Regions from separate parts of the Homo sapiens genome. Here region 2 is linked to region 1. Evidence: fine-mapped expression QTL. A gene starts in region 1. The other region holds a variant in brackets. All regions are shown on one strand. Distances are from middle to middle. Region 1 holds the start of SMARCA4 (SWI/SNF related BAF chromatin remodeling complex subunit ATPase 4). Region 2 overlaps SMARCA4 (SWI/SNF related BAF chromatin remodeling complex subunit ATPase 4).

What was found. PIP is the estimated chance that this variant, and not a neighbour inherited with it, causes the effect. A credible set is the group of variants that fine-mapping cannot tell apart.
Region 2: its variant is the best candidate, but not a certain one, in a credible set for the expression of SMARCA4 in whole blood (TOPMed, PIP 0.88).

The regions. Positions count from the first base shown.
Region 1 is chr19:10,955,622-10,964,557 of GRCh38, reverse strand. SMARCA4 (SWI/SNF related BAF chromatin remodeling complex subunit ATPase 4) reads right to left here and starts at 3,528. Exons shown (of 35, transcript NM_003072.5): 1 at 3,384-3,528. RefSeq lists an enhancer at 514-643 and silencers at 3,161-3,220, 3,271-3,330, 3,381-3,800.
Region 2 is chr19:11,008,215-11,018,814 of GRCh38, reverse strand. It overlaps SMARCA4 (SWI/SNF related BAF chromatin remodeling complex subunit ATPase 4), which reads right to left. Exons shown (of 35, transcript NM_003072.5): 15 at 8,284-8,434; 16 at 5,703-5,866. It also overlaps the pseudogene RN7SL192P. Among named protein-coding and RNA genes, the nearest start is that of SMARCA4, 52 kb to the right of the region's middle. RefSeq lists an enhancer at 8,465-8,965. The variant G/T (reference allele first, on the strand shown) is at 5,869.

The sequences.
Region 1 (8,936 bases):
GGGTGGATCAGTTGAGGTCAGGAGTTCAAGACCAGCTTGGCCAACATGATGAAATCCCATCTCTACTAAAAATACAAAACTTAGCCAGGTGTGGTGGTGCACACCTGTGATCCCAGCTACTCAGGAGGCTGAGTCAGAAGAATCGCTTGAACCCGGGAGGCAGAGGTTGCAGTGAGACGAGATCGTGCCATTGCACTCCAGCCTGGGCAACAAGAGTAAGATTCCGTCTCAAAAAAAAAAGAAAGAAAGAAAGAAAGTTCCACCAGACATCTGCCCAAAACCCTAGTCCCTCCCATGCTCCCACCTCCCACAAACAGCCAAAACATGGAATGGTCTAAGGTTATCTCCTGGTGTTTTGAGGGTTCCCAAGGAGAAGCAAAGGTACACAAATAAATTGTAAATAAATACACATATGTTGGAATGCTCCTCACTGACAAGAAGTTTAGAGACCACTGCACTGCCCTATATCACAATTCTGATGACATCACCTCCCCTGCTCAAAAGCCTGCACGATCAACATTTACGTCTCCTAAAGGGCTGGACACAAAATGATTTTAGGTGGCCCATGCAAAACCATTTATTACTTTCCTAACTATGCATGAATTAATTTTTATTCCTTTTTTTAGACAGGGTCTCGCTTCGTCACCCAGGCTGGAGTGCAGTGGCTCAATCATGGTCCACTGCAGCCTGTACCTCCTGCCCCAGCCTCTCAAGGAGCTTGGGACTACAGGGGCATTGCACTCCAGCCCGGATGACAGAGCGAGACTCCGTCTCAAAAAAAAAAAAAAAATCAAGTGTTCACTACGCATCAGGTGCAGCAGTGTGTTAGCGGCTTCCCATGTGACCTCATTCAACCCTCACAAGAAGCCTGTGAAGTTTCGGGCATCCTCGTCCTACCTGTTTCACAAGTGGGGGGCCCTACTGCTAAGCGCCTCGCTTGAGGTTAAGCTACGATTTAGAGAGCTGGGTGTGAATTCAGGAGGTCTGATTCCAGAATGAGTACTCCTTACCACCACCCCACGCTAACCACCACCCCACACTTTGTAGGGGAGATGAGGACAACTGAGGTTCAGGAAACAATGGCTTGGAAAGTGCAAAAACTGTTCAAACAACTAACCTGTATCCCTTACAATCCACCCCCAGTCCTGCACCAAGCTTTCTTTTTCTTTTTTTTTTTTTTTTTTTTTGAGACAGTCTTACTCTGGTGCACAGGCTGGAATGCAGGGGCACAAGAATGGCTCACTGCAGCCTCCACCTCTCTGGCTCAAGCAGTCCTCCTACCTCAGCCTCCTGAGTAGTTGGGACCACCGGTGCATGCCACCACACTCGGCTAATTTTTGTATTTTTTGTAGAGATGAGGTCTCACTATGTTGCCCAGGTTAGTCTCAAACTCCCGGGTTCAAGCAATTTTCCCGCCTCAGCCTCCCCAAGTGCTGGGATTTCAGGTATGAGCCACTGCACCTGGCCCTGCACCAAGCCTTTTACACAGATGGTCACGCGATCTTCCACAGGACCCCCTCATTCAATCCACATAAGTTCGCTAAAGACCTACTATGTGTCAGGCCCAGGGTACTGTGGGGCCAGCCAGGCAGACACAACCCCAGCTCTCACGGTGCTGGGGGTGACAGCTACACCGGAAAGGACCAAGTTGATGTATGAATGTAGCTGAGGGGAACAATGGCTAGTCCGAGGTGGCCAGGGAAAGTCAAAATACAATCCTGGCGCAGTGGCTCACACATGTAGTCCTAGCACTTTGGGAGGCCGAGGTGGGTGGATCACCTTAAGTCAGGAGTTTGAGACCAGCCTGGCCAACATGGTAAAACCCCATATCTACTAAAAATACAAAAATTAGCCAGGCGTGGTGGCGGGCGCCTGTAGTCCCAGCTACTCAGGAGGCTGAGGCAGGAGAATCGCTTGAACCCAGGAGGCGGAGGTTACAGTGAGCGGAGATTGGGACTCTGAACTCCAGCCTGGGCGACAGGCAAGACTCTGCCTCAAAAACAAAATACAATCCTACACACCCTCCCTGATTTTGAGGCCCCCTCTTCCAAGCAGCCCCCGTGATCTCTGGCTACCACCGATCCCCTGCCTGTCCGCTGTGTCCCTCTCACAGTGCAGGTTCAGAGCAATAAACGATAGGCCAAGAGAGTTTGTTCCCACATTTACCACCCGCTCCCCTCCAAGACTGCAGAGGCTCCAGGATCCAACCCCCGACCATCCAACACTTAGTAGGGCCTCAAGAAGTTATCTGCTGAACAATGAGGGAGATTGGACCAGACAATTACAATAGTGCTTCCCGCTTGCGAGGAACCATTTTACAGGCTTTCACCAATTCCATTTGGGAGATTACCCCCTTTCACAAAGGAGCTTTCACAAAGGAGGAAAACTAAGAGGTTCAGAGAGGTTAAGCCACTTCCCTAAAGTGACAGTGTGCTAAGTGACTGACAGCACCAGGAATCAAGCTTGAATGCAGCCTATCAATCCAAACTGAAAACTTGCTTCAAATTCCTGCGAAGCGGCTTTTCCGCTTATTCCCTTGCTACTTTCCCCAAGGAGTCACTGACCAAAAAAAAAAAAAAAAAAAATCAAGACTGGTATCTTCAAGATCGGGACAAAACACTCGCCCAAAAGGTCCACGTTGAAAATAAAAGCCTTAATCTGAAAAACCAATTGGGAAGGAGAAAAAAGGATGCAAAAGAAAAGCAATGCTTTTACACAGCAAAGGATTTCCTCCGTGCTCCCCTACTTGCCGCCGACCCCATCCCCAACCCCAATTCGGGCAAACATTTTGAAGTCACTAACTGCAAGGCATCGGGGGAGTCCTTTACCTTTCCTTGAAAATCTGGAATGACACGTTTTTAAGACAATTTGAGGTCGGCTAGCCCAAGGGGACCGCTAATGCCCGTGTCCGGCCGACGCCGGACATATCTGGAGGTTTGGCTGAGCCCCGATCGCAGCTTCGCCAAAAACGCAACATTCGGGTCGGACCCGTTACCACGCAGCCAGAAAAGCCCCAACGCCTGCCTATTGTTGCAGCCGCTGTAATTGGGAGGGCGACTGTAGGGGTGCCGGGCGAGGGGGGCGAGCTTTGTCCGGCGACCCCGGCGAGAGCGCGCGCGGAGAGGATCGCGCGGCCTCCACGCGGCCCGGGCCCCCCACCCACCCCGCCGCTCCGCGGGGGCCGCCGCTGCCACGGCCTCGCGACACTGTGGCCTTCCCCACGCGCGCGGCTGCCGGCTGGGCTTCTTGACCCTCGGGCGCCGCCGTACCCCGGCCCCGCACAGGGCGCGCCGGCAGCCCCCTCCCCCCTCGGCGCCCCGGCTCCATTCAAACCGCCCTCCCCGGCCCCGCGCCGCGCTGCCCCCGCGGCCCGCGTTCCTTACCAGGAGCCGCCGGCGCCGTCGACTTCCCGGCGCCTCCCCCGCCCCTCCGCGCGGGGCCGGGGGCAGAATGGGCGTCTCGCTTCTCTTCACGAAACAAAGAAGCCGCCGCCGCCGCCAAACGAGGGGAAGCCTCGCGCGCGCGCCCGCCCGCCTCGGCCACCGCCCCCCCTTCACACACACGCGCGCCACCCGCGCCCCCGCTGCGCGCGCGCTCGCCGGCTCCCCTCCCCCTCAGCACCGCGGCGGCCTCTCCAGCTTCCGCCGCCTGCCCGGCCTCGTGCGCGCGCCAGCCCGCCCTTCCGCTCCCGGCGCGCGTGCGCGCCCGTCCCTGGGCGGACGGGGGTGGGCGTGGCCCGGAGGAAGCACGCGCGTCCGATGCACCGCCCCACTCGGGCCGCGATGGCCCCGCGCCTGCGCACGCTTCGCCTTCTGCACGCCTCGCGTCTTGACGCCCCGGAGCATGCGCAGAGCGGACGCCACTGCGGCGGCGGTGGCGGCGGCCGCGGTGACGATGGGGCAACTGGAGAATGGGATCCCGGTGGCCGTGGGGTCCGTGGGGAAAGGAGGTCCCTGAGGCTCGGAAATAGGAACCCTGGACCGTAGGACGGGCCGCCTGGACCAAGACCGGGCAGTGGTTTCCCGCGGGCCAAGGGCGCGCCTGGGAACCGCTTTGATCCCTGACCTGGGGCGGCGAGGCCTATTTGGGGAGGCAAGGCGGGGCCCGACCGTGGCCGCCTTCTCTGCAAAACTTCCCAAGTGCCATTAATTAGCTTAGCAAATATTTATTGATCTGCTACTGTGTCCCAGCCGCCGTGGAGCCCTCGGTCTAGTGGGGAAGGAGGACAAGAAGCAAGATTAATAAGCAAAATAGTGCAGTATGAGAGGCCGGACTTGGTGGCTCACGCCTGTAATCCAGCACTTTGGGAGGCCGAGGCGGCCGGATCACCTGAGGTCGGGAGTTAGAAACGAGCCTGACCACCATGGTGAAACCCGTCTCTATTAAAAATACAAAAATTAGCCGGGCGCGGTAGCTCATGCCTGTAATCCCAGCACTTAGGGAGGCCTAGGCTGGTGGATCATGAGGTCAGGAGATGAGACTATCCTGGCTAACACGGTGAAACCCCGTCTTTACTAAAAATACAAAAAATTAGCCGGGCGTGGTGGCACACGCCTGTAGTCACAGCTACTCGGGAGGCTGAGGCAGGAGAATCGCTTGAGCCCAGGAGGTGGAGATTGTAGTGAGCCGAGATCGTACTATTGCACTCCAGCCTGGGCAACAAGAGTGAAATTCCGTCTCAAAAAAAATAAATAGTACAGTGTGAGGTGAACACTGGGAGGATCATGGACATTTTAAATAGGGCAGCCACGGAAGTCGTCGTTGCAAAGAACACGTTTGAATGCATACAGGCTGGTGGTGAAAGAGAGAAACCTTCCTCCGAGAGTGAAGGCCCTGAGCCTCTTGGCCTCTTCTGTGTGTTTTCTTTTTTGTGTGTTTGTTTGTTTGTTTGTTTGTTTGTTTGTTTGTTTTGAGACGGAGTCTTACTCCATTGCCCAGGCTGGAGTGAGGTGGCACGATCTCAGCTCACTGCAACTTCTGCCTCCCAGATTCAAGCGATTCTCCTGCCTCAGCCTCCCGAGTAACTGGGACTACAGGCGTCCGCCACCACGCCCGGCTAATTTTTGTATTTTTAGTTGAGACAGAGTTTCACCATGTTGGCCAGGCTGGTTTTTAACTCCTGACCTCAAGTGATCCGCCCACCTCAGCCTCCCAAAGTGTTGGGATTACAGGCGTGAGCCACCTCACCTGGGTGGGTTTTTGTTTAATTGTTTGTTTTATTAGAGACAGGGTCTTGCTCTGTAACCCAGGCTGGAGTGCAATGGTGTAACCACAGCTCAGTGCAGCCTCAAACTCCTGGACTCAAGGGATCCACCTCAGCCTCCCAAATAGCTGTGACTACAGGTACATGCCACCACCACCAGCTTTTTTTTTTTTTTTTTTTTTTTGTCTGTTATGTTCTGTAGAGCTGAGGTCTGCTGTGTTACCCAAGCTGGTCTCAAACTACTGGGCTCAAGCAGTCCTCCTGGCTCAGCCTCCCAGTGCACTGGGATTACAGGCATGAGCCACCAAGCCAGGCCCCAGAAGGACCTGGGTTTAAAACACGACTCCATTTCTACTACCTGGGTGATGCATGGGTAATACCAGGCAGGTTTACCAGAGCATCTACACCTCACTTTCTTCACCTGTGAAACAAACAATAAGGCTGGGTGCGGTGGCTGACATCTGTAATCCCAGCACTTTCGGAAGCCAAGGTGGGCAGATGACCTGAGGTAAGGAGTTCGAGACCAGCCTGGCCAACATGGTGAAACCCCGTTTCTACTAAAAATACAAAAAAATTAATTAGCCAGGCATAGTGGCAGGTGCCTGTAATCACAGCTACTCGGCAGGCTGAGGCAGGAGAATTTCTTGAACCCAGGAGGTGGAGGTTACAGTGAGCCAAGATCATGTCATTGCGCTCCAGCCTGGGTGACGAGAGTAAAACTCCATCTCAAAAAAAAAAAAAAAAAAAAAAAATGCTGGGCCCAGTGGCTCACGTCTGTAATCCCAACACTTTGGGAGGCCAAGGCAGGTGGATCATGAGGTCAAGAGATTGAGACCATCCTGGCCAATGTGGTGAAACACCATCTCTACTAAAAATACAAAAATTAGCTGGCTGTGGTGGCGCGTGCCTGTAGTGCCAGCTACTCAGGAGGCTGAGGCAGAATTGCATGAACCCAGGAGGCGGAGGTTGCAGTGAGTCGAGCGTGCCACTATACTCCAGCCTGGTGACAGAGGGAGATTCCGTCTCAAAAACAAAACAAGACAAAACAAAAAAAACCCACCAGAAACAATAATGGCTCCCACTTCCACTGTTTGGTTATGAGGAATCATGACAGCAGGTAGCCCACCTGCTAGCTCTCTGATCCTCAGCTAGTGTTATTGAATAGTGCACAGTAAGTGAGCAAGTAGAAGTGGGATCTGAACTCGATTCCTCATTCATTCAAGTAGTTATTTTTTTGTTTTTTTGTTTTTGTTTTTGAGACACAGGCTTGCTGGGTCATCCAGCCTGGACTGCGGTGGCACGATCAGTACTCACTGTAGCCTCGACCTCCTGGGCTCAAGCGATCCTCCTGCCTCAGCCTCCCGAGTAGCTTGGACTACAAGGGTGGGACACCACACTCAGCTAATTTTCTTAAAATTTTTTGTAGAGACAGTCACACTATGTCGTCCAGGCTGGTTTCAAACTCCTGGGCTCAGGTGATCCTCCCACCTCAGCCTCCCAAAGTGCTGGGATTACAGGCGTGAGCCAAGGCGCCCGGCCAAATAGTATTTCTTATGCTCTCTCCAAATGCTAAGCATTGAGCTAGGAATACCCTGCAGCAATGCATGGAGGAGGCAGGGTTGCTGCCCATGGAGTGGATGGTATGACTGTTCTCTAATTGTCTTTTATGCTAATCACACTAATATGCAATAGTGTAAAGAAAAACAGGCCGGGCCAGGCGCGGTGCCTCACGCCTGTAATCCCAGCACTTGGGAGGCCGAGGCAGGCGGATCACCTGAGGTCAGGAGTTCAGGACTAGCCTGACCGACGTGGAGAAACCCTGTCTCTACTAAAAAAATACAAAATTAGCCGGGTGTGGTGGTGCATGCCTGTAATCCCAGCTACTTGGGAGGCTGAGGCAAGAGAATCGCTTGAACCCAGCGGGCAGAGGTTGCGGTGAGCTGAGATCATGCCGTTGCACTCCAGCCTGGGCAACAAGAGCGAAACTCCGTCTCAAAAAAGAAAAACAGGCCGGTTGTGGTAGCTCATGCATGCCTATAATGGCAGTACTTTGGGAGGCCCAGGCTGGCAGATCACTTGAGGACAGGCGTTCAAGACCAGCTTGGGTAACATTGTGAAACCCCATCTCTACAAAGCAATACAAAATTTGCCAGGTGTCTCAATTAAGAGCACAGTTCTTAATAATGAACTGCCCCTGGGACCTTGGCCCCATGTCTGCATTGACACCCTTGGCTTCCAGACTTTAAAAAAAAAACATCTACAGGCTGGGCGCAGTGGCTCACGCCTGTAATTCCAGCACTTTAGGAGGCCGAGGCAGGCAAATCACAAGGTCAGGAGCTCGAGACCAGGTCAATATGGTGAAACCCTGTCTCAACCAGGCACGGTGGCTCACGCCTGTAATCCCAGCACTTTCTCTGGGATCGCAAGGTCAATATGGAGTTCGAGACCTGGTCAATATGGTGAAACCCCGTCTCAGCTGGGCGCAGTGGCTCACACCTGTAATCCCAGCACTTTGGGAGGCCGAGGCGGGCAGATCACGAGGTCAGGAGATCGAGACCATCCTGGCTAACACAGTGAAACCCCGTCTCTACTAAAAATACAAAAAAATTAGCCAGGCGTAGTGGCAGGCGCCTGTAGTCCCAGCTACTCAGGAGGCTGAGGCAGGAGAATGGCGTGAACCCGGGAGGCACAGCTTGCAGTGAGCTGAGATCCCGCCACTGCACTCCAGCCTGGGCGACAGAGCGAGAGTCTGTCTCTAAAAAAAAAAAAAAAAGAGAGACCCCGTCTCTATTAAAATACAAAAATTAGCCAGGTGTGGTGTCAAGCACCTGTAGTCCCAGCTACTCGGGAGGCTGAGGTAGGAGAATCGCTTGAACCCAGGAGGCGAAGGTTGCAGTGAGCCAAGATCACACCACTGCACTCTAGCCTGGGCGACAGAGACTCCATCTCAAAAAAAAAAAAAAAAGAAGGGGAGGAGAGGGCAGGGCAGGGGAGGGGAGGGGAGAGGAGGGAACGGGAAGTGGGGGAGGGGAATCATCCCAGAGGAGAATGGATTTTTTTTTTTTTTTTTTTGGCGCAATTTCCGCTAACTGCAAGCTCCGCCTCCCAGGTTCACGCCATTCTCCTGCCTCAGCCTCCTGAGTAGCTGGGACTACAGGTGCCCGCCACCACGCCAGGCTAATTTTTTGTATTTTTAGTAGAGACGGGGTTTCACCGTGTTAGCCAGGATGGTCTCGATCTCCTGACCTCGTTATCTGCCCACCTTGGCCTCCCAAAGTGCTGGGATTACAGACATGAGCCACTGCGCCCGGCCTTCTTCTTTTTTTTTTTTTTTTTTGTTTTTTGAGACGGAGTCTTGCCCTGTCACCCAGGCTGGAGTGCAGTGGCTCAATCTTGGCTCACTGCAACCTCCACCTCCCACCTCCCAGGTTCAAGAGATTCTCCTACCTCAGCCTCCTGAGTGGCTGGGATTACAGGTGGATTCTTCTCTTTTACTCAAAGATGAGGGCTTGAAATAACAACTCACCCAAGTCCAGAACATGAAAATGTAAAATACATTGACTTCAGTTGCCACTGCAAGTTAAACACCTTTTCAGTAATATCTCCAGATCTTCCTTGGAATATGAAATCACTCATTAGTTAACAAAATGTGCATTTATTCATCAAAAATGACCTCTTGTGCCTGGGCACAGTGGCTCACACCTGTAATCCTGGTATTTTGGGAGTCTGAGAC
Region 2 (10,600 bases), 53 kb before region 1:
TGAGGGAGGGAGGGAGGAAGAGAGACTGGCGAGGACGTGAAGGGCTCTGCCTCAGAGGACAGAAGGGAGGCCACTGGGAAAAGAGGGCAAGGCCCTTTAGAGTGAGAAGTAGGGACACAGAGATGTGATGGGGGACAGAAACAATGCTGCCAGGGCTGGGGAAGCCTGGACCTGCTGCCGGGAAAATGCAGCTTCAGAGCACAGGCTTCACGCCCAGAGCCAGGCTAGCAACAGTGCTGTGGAGACCTGAGGATATAGGAGACACCAAACAGTCTTTCTGCCACCCTCCAGCCACGGAAGGTTCCTGACTGTGAGAGAGAACGAGGACAGTGAGGGGCGAGGCGGGGCCTGGCTCAGGTGGCAGGCGGGAGGACAGGGATGGGAGGGAGCGGCAACTCGTGGCTGTTCCCCTGTGGGATGACCAGGGCTGGAATGAGGGAGGACATGGGGGCAGGCAGAATGCAGTGGGGAGGGGTGAGTCACCTGAGACCGACAGCCTAGAGACTGAGGAGAGGGTGGAGGCGGTAATAAAGCTGAGTCCCAAAGGGGACGGGCTCTGGGAGGAACTCTGGGGCAGGGAGTTTTCAGTGGGGGAGGGAAGCCACTCAGAAAGTCTAGACGGGGTGGTCCGTAAAGACAGGGCTCGAAGCTGGAGTCCCAGGGACTACTCGTGGTTTGCCCCCAAGCAGCTCCACGAGGGAGGTGCTGTGTCCACCATGAACCCATCTCCAGCCCCGCTGGAAGCCACAGCCAACCAGGCGGCACAGCCAATAGACAGAAGGACGCATGGCTGTGGTGAAGGCTGGGGAGAGTTCCTGAAGAAGCGTGGGGAGCAGAGGCTCAGCAGCCTTGCGCTTCTGCTGCCTTTTGCCCTGCCCACTCTCCTAGAACTCTTTCCTGCCCACTCTCCTGCATGAGGCGAGGGAGGCAGTGCAGCCGTCCTGCAACCATGAGGTAAGGAGCCTGAGGGTTGGAGTCACCCAAGAATGACTGGGCAGAAACCTGGGGGAGGCTGGGTCCCTGATGGCATCTTGGAGCCACCGGACCTGGCCCGTAGGGCCTGACCCTGTGCTTCCGCTGACTCAGGAACAGTGAAACCTCCCTGGAGTGATGGGGACAGTCAGCGCACCAAGGGAGAAGCCGGAGGTGTGCGGAGCATCTGCACTGGGAGGGAGAAGAGCCAGGAGCAAGGGTCAGGAGGGGACTGAGGGGACAGGTCCCAGAGACAGAGGTCCAAACGGAGGCAGGACAAGCAGCTCATGGCAGGAGGCAGCAATTCCCAGTGAGAGGGCCGGCACAGCCGGATGCCCATACGCCGTAAACATTTCCTAGCGCGCGGGCCCTCTTCTGGCCTGCAGGAGCTGGCGTTCCACAGCATGGACGCTTGCCCAGGTGGGGCGCAGTGGGAAAGACTGCAGGAGCACCCACCTCACAACCTCACTGAAGTAGGGGAAGAAGGTGACCTCTATCACCCTGGAAATGGAATCTGACTGCAATCTGGAGGTCTGAACACACAAGGAACTGGCCCCAAGGCCTGCGCTCTAGTGGCTCAAGATGCTTCCCGGAGGTACCGGCTCACTACTCTGAAACTGTTGTCCACGGAAGCTGAGAATGGGCGCACACACAGGGTGGAAGTGTGAGAAGGAACCTGTGGTCCTCACTCAGAGCCGCAGACAGTGGTATGAACTCACGTTCAGCTTAACACAGAAACAGATGCCGAGGCAGAGAAGGCCTTTTAGACGATACGTGCACAAAGCATCAGCACGCGCACATGAATCTCCTAGCACTGACCACTGAGAGGGCCCCAGGAGCAATGACACCCCAGAAGCAACAGGCCCATCCAGGACCCAGGTCTTGGTTCCCAAAACCATTCTGTAAGAAGGGAAACCAGGGCTCCTTGGAGAAATGGCTGATTTGAGGGAGTGGGCGGGAAATAGACTACATGAGCCTGCAGCATCTCTTGGTGCCAAAAAGCAAGAAAGTCCTCAAAATTCACCCGATGCTGGGGGCGTGTCAAAGGACAGAAGAGCCAACTGAAAGCACTCCCAGTGGCCAAAGCTGGATGGATTTGAGCCACAAAACAAAAAAAACCCAGCCACTGGTGCGTAGCCTGGAGTACTAAATAAATATCCGTGGGTCCATACTCATATTAACAAATGACTGAATACATAGAGAAGACACAATTCTTCCAGGGAGAATTCTCCCAGGCCAAATCTGAAAAAAACTGAAGCAACAAAATAAATAATATTTGTTCACGCCCACACTGATATAATAATTACCCAAACAAGCACATGGGGGAGACGGGAAAGCTCTTCCTAACGGTGGAATTCCAATTAATTTGTAGAGAAGAGCGGACAGAAACAGGTAACCATGTATTTGGCAACTCTCATGTAATTATTTTTTCAGGCAAGACTTATCTGACGTTTGCTGCTATAGTTTGGGTATCTGGCACCTCCAAACCTCATGCTGAAGTCTGATTTCCAATGTTGGAGGTGGGGCCTGGTGGGAGGCATCTGTGTCATGGGGGCCTCCCTCGTGAACGGCCTCGTGAACCCTCGTGAACGGCCTGTACTGTACTGGGGATGGGGGATGAATGAGTTCCTGCTCTCTGAACTCTCGTGGGAGCTATGGTTAAAAGGAGCCCGGCACCCCCGCCTCCCTCGCCTCCTCCCTCCCCATGGGATCTCTACACACTGGCTCCCCTTTGCCTTCCACCAGGAGTGGAATCCGCCTGAAGCCCTCACCAGGTGCCCAGTCTTCCAGCCAGCAGAATCATGAGCCAAATAAACCTCTTTTTTTTTTTGAGAAGGCGTTTCATTCTTGTTGCCCAGGCTGGAATGCAATGGCACGATATTGGCTCACTGCAACCCCCGTCTCCCAGGTTCAAGTGATTCTCCTGTCTCAGCCTCCTGAGTGGCTGGGATTACAGGCATGCGCCACCATGCCTGGCTAATTTTTTTTTGTATTTTTGGTAGGGACAGGGTTTCACCATGTTGGTCAGGCTGGTCTCAAACTCCTGACCTCAGGTGATCCGCCTGCCTCGGCCTCCCAAAGTGCTGGGATTACAGGAGTGAGCCACCGCGCCCAGCTAAACCTCTTTTCTTTATCACCTAGTCTCAGGTATTCCTTTATGGCAACATGAAATGGAGTAGAAGAGATGCTGAAATTATTGAGGAAAGTAGGAAGAGAAATGAGATATTCACAAGTGTCGAAGTACGTTCCCACGAGACAGTTATTAACGGAAAGTGTAACTCCTAGGTTTACAGTGGGAAACCCAGCAGGCACCTTGCCCGAGACACCAAGGCCTCAACATCTCATGCCTTCCCCGCTAAGGCACATCAAGCAGGGCGTGGTGTTGCTCCACGCGATCACATCGGACAAACCCAAATTGAAGGAGAGTCTACCAAAGGTCCGATCAGGATTCAACAGCGTCAAGCTCGACCAGGACAAAGACGAAATGAGGAACTGCCACAGGCATGCCACACAGACGTGACAGTGTGGGATCCTGGACCAGAGCAAGGCCACTTGTGAGAAAACTGACAAGATTGGTAAATAAGGCCTCTGGTTTGCTATTAGTCCTACGTCCATGTTATCTTCCTGGTTTTCATAATTGTCTTGGGGTTATGAAAGAATGGGGAAGATGGGTGAAGGGTGCATAGCAATTCTTTACACTAACTCTACAATGTTTTCTAAGAATGAGGTCGCCAGGCACAGTGGCTCACTCCTGTAATCCCAGCACTTTGGGAGGCCAAGGCGGGCAGATCATGGGGTCAGGAGTTCAAGACCAGCCTAGCCAACATGGAGAAACCCTGTCTCTACTAAAAATGCAAAAAAGTTAGCCGGACATGGTGGCGCGTGCCTCTAATCCCAGCTACTCGGGAGGCTGAGGCAGGAGAATCGCTTGAACCCAGGAGGCAGAGGTTGCAGTGAACCAAGATGGCACCACTGCACTCCAGGCTGGTCAACAGTGCGAGACTCCTCAAAAAATAAAAAAAAATAAAAATAAATGAGATCATTTCAAAATGAAAAGTTTAAAAAAATTTTTTAAAGCAAAAAATTAACAACTAAGAACCAAGGCTGCAAAACAACAGCACCCTGGAGAGCGGCGTTCCAGCAGAGATGGTGATCTGAGAAGTCTGTAAGTGAAAGGAGGGAAAATCGGGAACTGCAGAGGGCGACTGCCACTGCACCCATCAGCCTCCAGGGGAAGAAGGGCAGAGGGGAGCCAGGAGGTGGGCAGAGCCGGAAGGAACAGCCTCCAGACACAGACAGGGGACAGAGCTCAGGCAGGTGCAGCAGGAACGCTGTAGCAATCTGGGTCTGACCACGAGGGGAGGTGCAGCTACCTGCAGCGCTGTGCACAAGGACGCCCTGCTCCTTCAGAGCAGTCTGTTCTACCCGCCACGTAGGAAGCAGGGAGATAGAAGAAAGAAACAGTTCCACAGTAAACCTGGGAGGGTTCTGGGGTCCTCACCTTTCCTCCAGTCCTCCCTGCAACAGTCAGGACGTCAGGCCTACCCTATGGGTGTGTGACCCATGGGGCCTGGCTGTCTTATAGGCAGAAGGGCATTTTCCCATGGGGTTGGAGCATGGGCATGCCGCTCCCCAGCCTGCCAGGAGTTGGGGGTCCGCTGCTGACTCGTGGCTGTAGTGGTCCCAATGAGTGCCTGGTTGGAGTTAGGGGCTGTGCTCTAGGGCCAGACCAAATGCTATGCTGAAGTTTGCCCAATCAGACCAGACTAACCCCCAGGCCGGTGACTGTCTGCTTGCTGGACATGTGACTTGAACTGGACCAGTAAGAGCCGGCCCTGGGGCTTTCTGGGAAAACCCTAGGCAGGTCCCCCTTTAGTGCAGGGGCTGAGCTGGGTAGAGAGATGTCGAGAGAGGTGGGCAGGGGGGCGGACTCTGTTTGCAGGGAGAAAAAGGCCGGTGGAGCCAGGCAGTGGCAAGTGAGAGCCTCTCAGGGTGTCCGGATCCCACCATGCCCAAGGACCTGGGCCATGCTGGGATGTGCCCGAGGGCTCTGGTGGCCCTTGCAGGGCACTGCACAGTGAGGAAGTAGAGACTGTTCAATGGAGCCTCAATGGCCTCACCCTACTTTTCTAGTGGGAGGTTCTTGTCTCCTGCGACTCCCCTGCATGGACTTTGCTGGTTGTGGGACTTGAAAAGGACACCAAGGACATCCCGGGAGAGGGACCCCAGGCCTCCCCAGGGGTGGAGGGGATGCACAGTCATGCCCCCACTTGATCCGGGACCCAGAGGCAGAGGCTGTGACGGGTGGAGCTGTGCACAGCCCCGAGGCTGGTGGAGCAGTCCTGACCCCCAGCAGCTCAGGATGCGACTGTACCTGGAGACAGGGCCAATACAGAGGCAATGAAGTTAAAGCAGGCCATTAGGATGCACCCTCATCCAACCTGACCCATGTCCTTCTAAGAAGAAGAGATGAGGACACAGACACGCACAGAGGAAGGACCATGTGAAGACACAGTGAGATACATGTAAGCACGTATCCCTGCAAGCAGGAAGAGAGGCCTCAGGAGGAAGCAACCTGCTACACCTTGACCCTGGACTTCTGGCCTCCAGGAAAACAAATTTCTGTAATTAAGCCACCTCGTTTGTGGTATTCTACTGCGGCAAACTTAGGAAACAAACACAGGAGCGTGTGAGCGGCGTGTGGGATGTTGCTGGCAGCGGGTACTCACGAGAGAGGCACGATGATGAGGAAGGGCCCATTGATGCGTTTGTGCTCCATGAGGTACGTGATGAGCGCGATGGTCTGGATGGTCTTCCCCAGGCCCATCTCGTCGGCCAGGATGCCGTTCAGGTTGTTGTTGTACAGGGACACCAGCCACTCCAAACCTTTGATCT[G/T]CAAGGACAGATGCGGCCACGCCAGGACTGAAGGCCGGGTCGGACACCAGAGGGTCCTCCCACTTCAGAGAGTCAAGACACCGCCAGCCACGAGTTCTGCCTAAGCCACATCCCACCCTCTACTGCCTTTACCACGGATTTTTCCTCTGAACCAAACTGATTCTTTATCGCTTAGCCTCATCCTTAGCAATAACGTCTGTGAAGCTGCAGGATGACTGTGCGAACGATGGACACGTGTGACATTTCTAATACACATCTCAACAGCTCACTCCCACCTGTTACATTGTCTGCCTGTCCATGCCCCACACAGCACACAGGAAAAACCTGCCCACACCACGGGACACTTGCACTCAGGAAACCAAGAGGGCTTCAGGGCGACTTCGTGAGGAATTCACTGCCTGAACATCATTTCAAGATTAAGAGAGGGATTTCCAAAGCCTGGGAGCTTTCTGAAATACAGGCCTTAAACAGAAGACTATTTGCAAACTGAAGATAACGTTATGAAGGAAAATTTGGAAATGTTCGTAATGGATTGAGGAAGTAAGTTCTGGCCAAGTTCTAATTCATTTTTTTTTTTTTGAGACCGAGTCTCACTCTCACCCAAGCTGGAGTGCAGTGGCCCGATCTTGGCTCACTGCAACCTCTGCCTCCCAGGTTCAAGCAATTCTGCCTCAGCCTCCCAAGTAGCTGGGATTACAGGCATGCACCACCATGCCCAGCTAATTTTTTGTATTTTCGGTAGAGACAGGGTCTCATCATGTTGGCCAGCCTGGTCTCAAACTCCTGACCTCAGGTGATCCACCCGCCTTGGTCTCCCAAAGTGCTGGCATCACAGCCATGAGCCACTGCGCCTAGCCAAGTTCTAATTATTTTAATTGCATGGGACTCTTGGAAAATTCCACTAACCATGAGCTTTGCCTTTGTTTCATTATTGTTTTATAGAGATGGGGTCTCGCTATGCCACCCAGGCTGGAGTGCAGTGGCTCTTCACAGGGACTATCTCACTACGGATCAGCACATCAGTTTTGACCTGCTCCATTTCTGACCTGGGCAGATTCGCTCCTCCTTAGGCCACCTGGTGGTGCCCCACTCCTGGAAGGTCATCATATTCATGCTGAACTTAGTACAGACACCTGATCGACATAGGGCGCTACAGCTCAGAAGTCCTGGGCTCGGGCTCTCCTCCCACCTAAGCCGCCCAACTATCTGGGACTACAGATGTGTGCTACCACCCCCAGCTAATTTTTAAAATATTTTTGTAGAGGCAGTGTCTCACTATGTTGCCCAGGCCCACTTTCAACTCCTGGGCTCATGCGATCCTCCCATCTCAGCCTCTTAAGTAGCTGGGACTATAGGTGCATGTGCAGCTTTGAATGTTGATACTAGCACAAAAGGTTTAAGAGTTGTCTTAAAGAAAGTTGGGGCTGGGTGCACTGGCTTACATCTGTAATCCCAGCACTTTGGGAGGCCAAGGTGGGCGGATCACCTGAGGTCAGGAGTTTGAGACCAGCTTGGCCGACATGGTGAAACTCTGTCTCTACTAAAAATACAAAAACTAGCCGGGCGTGATGGCACGCACTTGTAGTCCCAGCTACTCAGGAGTCTGAGGCAGGAGAATCACTTGAACCCGGGAGGCAGAGGTTGCAGTGAGCTGAGATCGCGCCATTGCACTCCAGCCTGGGCAACAGAGAGGCTCCGTTTCAAAAAAAAAAAAGAAAAGAAAAGAAACAACCAAATTGAAAACCAGAGAGAGCTGTTCTTTGGTTGGAGTTGTACTGGTTGTCTTGTGGGGCCTTGTAATGAGCTCTGGATGGCAGGCCGCATTAAGAGCATGAGCAGCTCTGTTTCGTGACTGTCCCAAGTCAGGCCCAGGTGAAGAGCTTCAGAGCCACCAACTTTTCACCCTCACACAGGACCTGCTACCTCATCCCCAGAAGAAAGAGCGGAGTCCAGGGCTGCCGGCTCCTAGATCTAAGCTCCTGACGCTCGCCGTTTCACACCACACAGAGCTCAGGTAACCTGTCCTGAGCATGCAGATGCCCAGATCTGAGCTCCGGCCCTGGTTCAGTCCTACACACGGTGCGATGCTGAGGAGGTGCTGCACCTCTCTGCTCCTCAGGTGGCCCCGTCTCCTCTGTGAGGCCACTGGAGTGCAAATCGCTCCCACTCTGCCTGGCACATCGGGCACCCAGTAGACACTGACTTTCTGCTGTTGCACGTCCTCCTGGCAGCTAACCTACCAGACCACATCTCTGCTTTACACATGGGGAAACCGAGGCTCAGAGGGGAAGAGTGCATTGCCCACAAAGAGCAAAAGGTGAACTCAGGTCTGCCTGAGGTCTGAAGCCCGCACCACCTGGGAACACCTGCACCGAGGCAGCTACGTGGCGGTGGCCTCCCCACCCCCTACCTCACCTGGTACTGTTTGAGGACACCATTGACCATAAGCGCTGACTGCTTGTCCACTCTCTCAGTGACAGCATGGGCCACGGCATAGTAGGACTGCAGGCCACGTGCAAGGGCCTGGGACACGCCATATTCATCATCGACATCTTGCTTGGCATTCCTGGGAGTGAGATGGAGGTGCCGGGTAAGGACACACATTCCTATCTGTGACAATGTGCTGGCTCCTGACACAAGCTCTGCGGAGTGGCCCTTTCTGCTGAATGACCTGTGGCCAGCACTGTAAGACACATAGAGGTGCAGCCGGACAGTGTGAGGCCAGGCAGGGCAGCCCGCACTAAGCCTGAGGGGTCCAGACTGGACTCCTGGGAGCTCTGGGTCCTGATTGCACCACCACAGTACAAGAATTCTGTCACTCTGATGGGCGTGGTGGCTCACGCCTGTAATTTCAACACTTTGGGAGGCTGAAGCAGGTGGATCACTTGAGGCCAGGAGATCAAGACCAGCCTGGCCAACATGGTGAAACCCCATCTCTACTACAAAAAACAAAAATTAGGCTGGGCACAGTGGCTTACACCTGTAATCCCAGCACTTTGGGAGGCCAAGGCATGTGGATCACCTGAGGTCAGGAATTCTAGACCAGCCTGGCCAACATGGTGAAACCCCGTCTCTACTAAAAATACAAAAATTAGCCGGGCGTGGTGGCAGGCGCCTGTAGTCCCAGCTACTTGGGAGGCTGAGGCAGGAGAATGGCATGAACCTGGGAGGCGGAGCTTGCAGAGAGCCGAGATCGTGCCACTGCACTCTAGCCTGGGCGACAGAGCAAGACTCTGTCTCAAAAAAAAAAAAAAAAAAAGTTAGCCGGGCGTGGTGGTGCATGCCTGTAACCCCAGCTACTCAGGAGGCTGAGGTAAAAGAAACACTTAAGCCCGGAGGCAGAGGCTGCAGTGAGTCAAGAGATCGAGCCACTGCACTCCAGCCTGGGCGACTGAGCAAGACTGTCTCAAAACAACAAATAGAATGCTGTCACTTGCCACAGCACAGAAAGACACTCTGCACCTAGCCAGATGCTGATCATCATAGAACCCACCCTTTCTAAGAACAATTCATGAGCCTAAAGGTGAAAAGAAACACAGACTGAACAGGTTCATACAAAACCAGAGCTGTTAAAACTTAGGCAATTTGTAATCTAATCTGAATGTTTTTCTTTTAAAAAGTAACTCTGGCCAGGTGCGGTGGCTCACGCCTGTAATCCCAGCACTTTGGGAGCTCAAAGTGGGTAGATCATGAGGTCAAGAGATCAAGACCATCCTGGCCAACATGGTGAAACCCCATCTCTACTAAAAACACAAAAATTAGCTGGACGTGGTGGCCCGCGCCTGTTGTGCCAGCTACTCAGGAGGCCGAGGCAAGAGAATCACTCGAACCCAGGAGGTGGAGGTTGCAGTGAGCCAAGATCGCACCACTGTACTCCAGCCTGGTGAAGAGCAAGACTCTATCTCAAAAAAAAAAAAAAAAAAAAAAAAAAAAAAAAAAGTGACTTTTATCCACCTACATTTTTTTTTTTTTTGAGATGGAGTCTCCCTCTGTTGCCCAGGCTAGAGTGCAGTGGCGCTATCTCAGCTCACTGCAGCCTCCTCCTCCCCATTTCAAGCGATTCTCCTGTCTCAGCCTCCCAAGTAGCTGGGACTCCAGGTGCACGCCACCACGCCCAGCTAATTTTTGTATTTTTAGTAGAGATGCGGTTTCACCAAGTTGGCCAGGCTGGTCTTGAACTCCTGACCTCAAGTGATCCACCTGCCTTGGCCTCCCAAAGTGCTGGGATTACAGGCCTGAGCCACCACGCCCAGCCCTCACTTGCTTTTTAACAGGATCTATTAATTCCTTACCATAAGCAATGAAGAGATTACTGTGTTAACTGTGATGTGTTACAGGAGCAAAAGATGACAAATATAACCTAAACGCTTGTCACCAAAGGACAGGCTACGAAAATGAGAATATAACGTGACGCAGTATGACACTGCACGCTGAGGACCAGACTGGAAGCACTCTGCACGGACACAGGATGACCTCCAAGAGGGAAGGTTCAGTGAAAATAACAAGGTGCACACCAATGTACACTGGAGATATGTATGCAAATGAAGACAAAAATATGCACATTTTGCTTGCTAATGCAGACAGCATCTCTGGAAGATGACACACAAGGCTGGAAAGTTTCCCCAGGGAGGGTAGTGGAAAGGGAGGGAGCCGGGGAGCAGAGAACGGGGTGAGGAGGGCTTCTCCCGCACACCTGACTGTACCTCGTAAGCATATGGTGAACCATGCGAAT